Linked DNA regions of Homo sapiens: region 1 is reported to be linked to region 2. Evidence: microRNA targets listed by miRTarBase, many of them from high-throughput screens and not tested one by one. Region 2 holds a microRNA gene; the other region holds the end of a gene's coding sequence.
Evidence for each region. The annotated mature microRNA hsa-miR-3147 reads GGUUGGGCAGUGAGGAGGGUGUGA and lies in region 2 at 1,782-1,805, shown strand. An mRNA with a match to its seed (bases 2 to 7 or 8) in the 3' UTR can be bound and repressed. Matches are read on the target gene's strand: a 7mer-m8 pairs with bases 2 to 8, a 7mer-A1 pairs with bases 2 to 7 and ends in A, and an 8mer does both.

Region 1: the mRNA of ST8SIA3 is a reported target of hsa-miR-3147. Seed matches in the 3' UTR shown: 7mer-m8 at 1,451-1,457.

Annotation. Positions count from the first base shown.
Region 1 is chr18:57,359,640-57,363,165 of GRCh38, reverse strand. It overlaps ST8SIA3 (ST8 alpha-N-acetyl-neuraminide alpha-2,8-sialyltransferase 3), which reads right to left. Exons shown (of 4, transcript NM_015879.3): 4 at 1-3,171. The coding sequence ends at 2,889. Among named protein-coding and RNA genes, the nearest start is that of ST8SIA3, 8.8 kb to the right of the region's middle.
Region 2 is chr7:57,403,249-57,406,248 of GRCh38, forward strand. It overlaps MIR3147 (microRNA 3147), which reads left to right and starts at 1,777; the gene lies at 1,777-1,842. MIR3147HG (MIR3147 host gene) reads left to right here and starts at 1,519. Exons shown (of 3, transcript NR_120505.1): 1 at 1,519-1,747. It overlaps LOC105375299 (a long non-coding RNA gene), which reads right to left and starts at 871. Exons shown (of 2, transcript XR_927305.3): 1 at 808-871.

The DNA of each region.
Region 1 (3,526 bases), not on the chromosome of region 2:
GTAGAAAGCCTTGGGGGCTTTATGGTAAAATGTATTCCAATAGCTGAAAGTGGACTCTGTTGTGAGTATCCTAAAAAAGGGAAAGTGTCTGACAAAAGGATAAATTAGTCTAGAACTAACAAAGCAAGGTCAATGCAAAAGCCAGGGCATGTGTCTGTAGCTGAAAGAGGAGGAAAGAGCCAATGGTCCTGAGCTGATTACTGCCCAGTTCACTGCACTTGACTACACAAGCCTGGGAGCTGCAGGAGAGCCAGCTGCCTTTCTAATTAGGACACTTGGGACACAACAACTTTTTTGGTCATAAAAGTGGTTGTATAGATTTAATCTTTGAAACAGTCTTTAAAAACAAACAGAGATTTTGCATGGTCAGCTAGAAGCTGCTATTCTTCAAAAGTGAAGGGTGATCTATTGGGATCATCTCCAGGAAGTCCTCCTTATAAGCAGAGATGAGCCTGATCTCTAAACCCCTCAAGTTCTGAAGAAAAGTCCATTTCCTCACTATTTTGAGTTTTCATTAAAGTGATAGATAACACGGTGGTGGGGGATGGGAAAGTCCTCCCACTCTAAGGTTAAGATGGAGCCAAGACTGCAAGGAGATTTAAAAAATCTCCCTGAACTTAAAAAACAAACAAAAATCCTTGGCATTATGATGAGATAAAATTTAAATTGTCCACTACAGAACAGTAAACTGTTTTTTAGAGATTCTGGTCTTTTCCTCTTTTAATCTTCTTGGTTTAAAGTGTCTATGCATTTATATTTAGTGAAAATGAATGGGCACATTGGGATTAAAACTCCAGAGTCAGAATCTGGCCCAAGTAATATTGGCATTAATATCACTTAGCTATAACCAAATGAACTAAGTGCTCAGGAACAGCCAACTAAACACTTCTGTCAGTTGTCAATCTCTCAGTGATCCCAACAGAGCACAGTGTGAGGATGGTAGTACAGTCCTCTTCAAAGGGACAGGGAACAAACACGGTGTGGTTGTGATACCCATCAAATTATACCACTGAATTACAAAATGTTTTTAATGTCTCCCCTTATAATTATATTGTAATGTGTGTCATAATTGGTAACACATTTGAACTTGGTGTTTCTTTCATTAGTTAATATCTAGATCTATGCAAGTTGCTCTAATTAGATTGCTTTCTGAAAATAATAATAAGGCAGGTTTAGGACCAGGCAGAACGTGAGCATAACGATAGTGTCTTTCCTTACCATATTCGGTTTAATTTTAGGCATGATCTTACCTTCCTAAAGAGGGGCAATGAGCTCATCACTGAACTACAGCACATTTTTTAAACAGTTATTTGTCGCATTGCAAGCAATCTAGATGAGATTTCAGGAAAAGAATGAGCTACCCCACTCAAATGCATAACAAATATGCTTGACTGGCATTTGGAAAGAAGAAAGAAACTCTTATTAAAATTTAACATCAACTTGGCCAGACGTTGGGCTGAATTGGAAGAACAAAGTGCTGCTCAGTAAAAAGCCAGGGATGGGAATGATTTGATTTCTACTCATATGGCTGAAATAAAGAAAATGAGAATGGCCAGCTACTTCCTTCATCGCAGGTCTACATAATCTTGGATTCCAACTCTTGCCACTGCACAATGGCTTTTTCTTTTGAAATGCTTAATTTGTAGTTGTATAGATCTGACTTCAGTGGAAAGAGGGAATATCCAGTGCTACAATGTTCTCAAAGAGAGCAAATGGTTCTGGATTGGTGGTGGTGCACACAATGATACGGAAAACGATCGCACCTCAGCACTAGTCACCTGGGCACCTGGCCTGGCCAAGATCCTCCTCCACTTTAACCCAGCTGGAATGGGTAACATGGTTACCACACTTTAGGGTACACAGGATTCCATAACAACTTCTAAATATTCTTCTTCCTTTTCCTTTGTGTGTCCCAGGGTCTTAAGCTGATTCATTGCCTCTATATTCTGAGAGAACACCCAGCCTAGTGCATGGGTTGGGATTATGGGAGACACTAAATTTAGGCTGGAATGGCCTTACAGATGTGGCCACAGTGCTATTATTTGCCATAACAATGCCTACATCAAGAGACGCAATGCTATCCACAACATAGGCTTTCTTTGTGATCATGAAAGATGCACTGCCTTATATCCCACTCACCACAGAGGGACCATCTTGCTGTAGAATGACTGAATGGACTGGTGAGGACTGCATCAGAGGCATTTCTTTAAAAAAGGAATCACAAGGGAGTCCATCGTGATTTGCCTATTTTGTCATGAAGCATCAAAGTTACCCAGAACCTTAAACACATCAAGTACAAATGCAACATATACAAGCAAAGCGAATTCAATAGGATTCCTAGCAAATTATTAAACTCCACGGTGGTAGGGCAGGGAGTAGTTGCAGAGGGAAGGAGTGAGATGGTGATAGAGATGGAGATAGGGAGATAGATAGAAGATGAGATATGCAAACCAGTTTTTTACGTTTCCATTTTTCAGAGTCTGATCCCACCAGCAAAACAGGTCCTGCCCCAGTTGGCCAGAGGCCTCTGATTATGAGGACTATCTGAGCAGAGCTGCAGAAACTATAGCTCTAGTCCTCATAAAAATGAGAGGCAGTTTATTATTAAAATCCAAACATGAAAATACTTCAAACCATTTCGTTAGCAGCATAGTCCCAAATGCAACATTCCCTTTATCAATCAAGTCTAAACCATGTGGCTTCAATGCATCTGTCCTGCTAAATCTGCTAAAACTCTTAAAAGAGCAGTGCAAAAGAGAAAAGACATCTTTCCTTTTAAATGGCAGACAATCCTTATAAGACATTCTCTAGGGTTCTATTCTGAAGGCTATTCAATTTGATTTGGGGCACTTTTTAAACAGCCATTTGGCGCTTTCCGTTTGGAGTTCTTAGGCACAGTGTGACAGAGTCAGCTTGGTGAGCCCTTCCCCATGCATTCGGTACAGCAGCTGAAACTCAGCAGGCAGCTGGTGGGACTCCTGCCACTTGGTGGTAAATTTGGTTCCTTTTTTGTCATAGTAATGGTATGGAAGATCTTCCCTTGTGTTGGGGTCAAATCCAAACGGCCAAAATCCATACAAGTGGATCTCTTCACATATTGCTGATGCAAGGGTGTACATAAGAATACCTGTGCTCAGCCGTTTAGGTGACAAATGTTTGTTTTTCCAGTACCTGTGGAACAATAAGTACATTTGGATTCAGAGGTCAGCGTTGAAAGTTTCAATCAGCAAGGTCTATCTGACTGGGCTGGGTAGTGGATTTGTTACTGTAACTTAAATAGTGCTTGTTTTGAAATTATATTTTAGGCAACCAAAAACAACTTCTGGGCACAACTGGTTACATAATTTGTGAGATCCAGTAAGAAATAAAAATGTGGAGTCTTGGTTCAAAAAGTATTGAAAATTTCGAGTGCAAGAGCAAAGTATTAAACCAAGTGTTGGGCCCTTCTGAGCATGGGATTTCCTGGGATCACACTGTTTGCACACCTTTGAAGCTGGCCTTTGAAGCTGCCCCTGGGTTTTTCTAA
Region 2 (3,000 bases):
TGGCCAACATGGCGAAACCCCATCTGTACTAAAAATACAAAAATTAGCCCGGCAAGGTGGCGGGTGTCTGTAATTTCAACTACTGGGGAGGCTGGGGCAGAACAATTGCTTGAACCCAGGAGGCGGAGGTTTCAGTGAGCCCAGATCGAGTCAGTCACTGCACTCCAGCCTGGGCTACAGAGTGAGACTCCGTGTCAAAAAAAGAAAAAAGAAAAATGGATTCAAAGAATTATCACTGTTAAGTTCCACCAGCAAATTATTAAACGTGGTTCCAAAGGGATATTTAAAAAGGGAAATTAAGTGTTTCCATGAAGGTCCTATTCACAGCAGAAACGCAGACACTGTTCATGACCTCACCACACAAACTTCCCTTATGTGTTGGGAGGGACCAAGGGGCTCTCTGGCCCTGCACCTGCGTTAATTACGGCCGGGAGGTCCACACTAGGACCCCAAGGTCTGGGAACCAGCCTGGATCGGGGGCAGAGAAGCGGTGGATGTGGCTCCCAAAGTGTCTTAGGGGCTCCCTTCCCTGTGGCTGTTTCCTGACTGGATGCAGCAGGGTCAGGCCTTTCGCTGTGACGTTTTCAACTCTTTGTCAGAGTGGCAGGAGCGTCCCTGTGAGAGGCCTGACCCAGGTGTGGGTCATGCAGCCAGCCCGGGGTCCAAGGGGCACTCCTGGGATGAACAGGAGGATTTGCGACAGCCTAGAGGATAGAGGAAATGGTGGCTTTGAAAAGGCAAGTGCTAGGTTATCAGGGAACGCATATATCCATTTCTGGCAGCGAACGGACGGTTTCAGACACTCACGAGGGAGCTTCCCGCGTAGGATGCCAAGAAGTCGGAGAACAGTCAGACACCTGGCGATTAGCCCGTCCTACGCAGGGACTACACTGCGCATGTTCAAAGGGGGCGTGTCAGGGGTGGGGCGAGACGGAGGGGCGGTGCCGAGGGGAGAGGCAGCGCAGAGGGAAGGAGCGGGGCGAGGAGAAGGGGCGGGGCGAGTACTGCTCCAAGATATGGCAACCGTGACAGCTTTGCGAGTAGCTCCAGGTCCCCTGCTGCTCCGTGAGAAATCAAACTTCTGGCAATGACGAAGCATGAAGCCAGCATCTCAGGGAGAGGTAGTGACATAATTACACGATAAGACAAGCCGCCTGGTCTCGCTGTCACTTGGCAGGCAAGAGAGGTTCGGGAACAACCAGGCTCCCCTTTGGCATGGCAGAACTGCTCTGGACTCGGGAAGGTGTGGATTGGAGGGCGGGAGCTACGCCTGGCATACTGGGACTTGTCATCTTTGATTAGCTTCCAGTTTTTTAATTGCAGGGCGACCGGATTACAATCCCAGCCAGCATGAACATGGGGCGGCGCGCAGTCCTGAAGGGGGAAGCCGGGCTGTGCCGGCCTGGCTCTGCCGGCCTGGCTCTGCATGCTGGGAGCTGTAGTCTCTTCACCGCTCCCGCCCGTTGTTTCAAGCGCTTCGGGACTGCAATCCCAGCATGCCCCGGTCTCAGGGGCGGGGCGCAGTTCTTGCGGGAGGAGCGGGGCGGTGCGCTCCTGGCCACGCAGGCTGGAAACTGTAGCTCTTAACGGTTCCCCGCCCGTTGGTGGCAAGGCGGCTGGACTAGAATCCTAGCAGGCGATATGCGAGAAGGCGGGCAGCCCAAGAGGGTTGGGCAGGGCAGTGTGGATCTCGCCGCTTCCACAGCGATGCTGGCTACTGATTTCGGACACCTCCTTGCCATGGGATGTGAGTCCGGAGAGGGACAGGAGGGGCAGGTCCGGGTTGGGCAGTGAGGAGGGTGTGACGCCGCGAAGTGCACCTCGCCCTTGTCCAACTCGGACGGGTGTGGTCCTCACCTCACTTCCCGCTGCTAGGCTGGGTTCCCTCTCCCACCTGCACCCGGGGTCTTTCCTGGACATCACGCCTCCTCCAGCCCAGGGAGCCACCTGCTTTCCTAAGCTGCTGTGGGAACTGGCCTGCGGTCCAGGCACTGTCCACTGTGCCGCTGCCCTCTTTTCTCTCCAGCCAGAGCGCAGTGCAGCCGCTATGGGGAGAAATCCGCCGCCCGGCCCGCCAGTGCACAAGTTCAGAGCTTTGCGTGGGGCAACATGCTCTGTGGCTTCATGAAAATGTCACCCTCACCAGCGCCTTTTTCGCGGATGTGGATGTTGAGGTGGCAGAGAGGGTCATTATTGGTTTACCCAGGAGATGCTAACAGCAGAAGAGAAAATCTCACATCCCAGGCGTGTGTCTCTGGTGCGCCATTTTCCCCCAACCCATTTGGTGGAAAGTTCCCCAAATAGCTACCTAAAGATGAAGATAGTTTAGGCATTTTACACGTGACATCATTGGCCTCATCTCAACCGAGGCCTGACTGGGCAGTGTCTCAAAGACACAATGGCAACCTGATTCTCAGGAACAGGTGGTGCTCCAGCTTTGTGTGAGCGACTTTCAAGGTATAGAGCACTTGGGGAGTCTTTGAAACTCCTCAGGCTTCACAACTTTGCTTTGAATGGAATGTTCATCACCCCCGGCACTCACGGAGGTACCTTTACTCTCTCGGGCTGATCTGTTTAATTTTTCTGTCCAGACAATGGAAACTTCTGGGAGCACTTCTGGTTTCGTGTAGCTTCCTAATAATTGATGTCCCTTAATTCCAGGTGTCCTCAGGGAAAGTTCCTTTGATTCTGGAATGGCTCCAGCTTTTATGCTTTTGTGTTTAATCCGTAAAAACCAAGGTGTTAATCTACATAAAAATAAGACCTTGTTCATATCACACATTCCAACAGGCTTCATTTCTGATTCCTGAATGCGGATTACTATTTTAAAAAAGCCTAAAAACTCTGGTCATGGATATTAGACACTGTTATTGTACTTTGTGAAGAATTTACTCCTTCAGGATCAATTACACACGGGCTCATCAGCACCTTTGTCAATAAAGGAACAAGAACCATGTGGCATCTATGGATGTGGTGAGGTGAAGTATAGGGAGACCACAG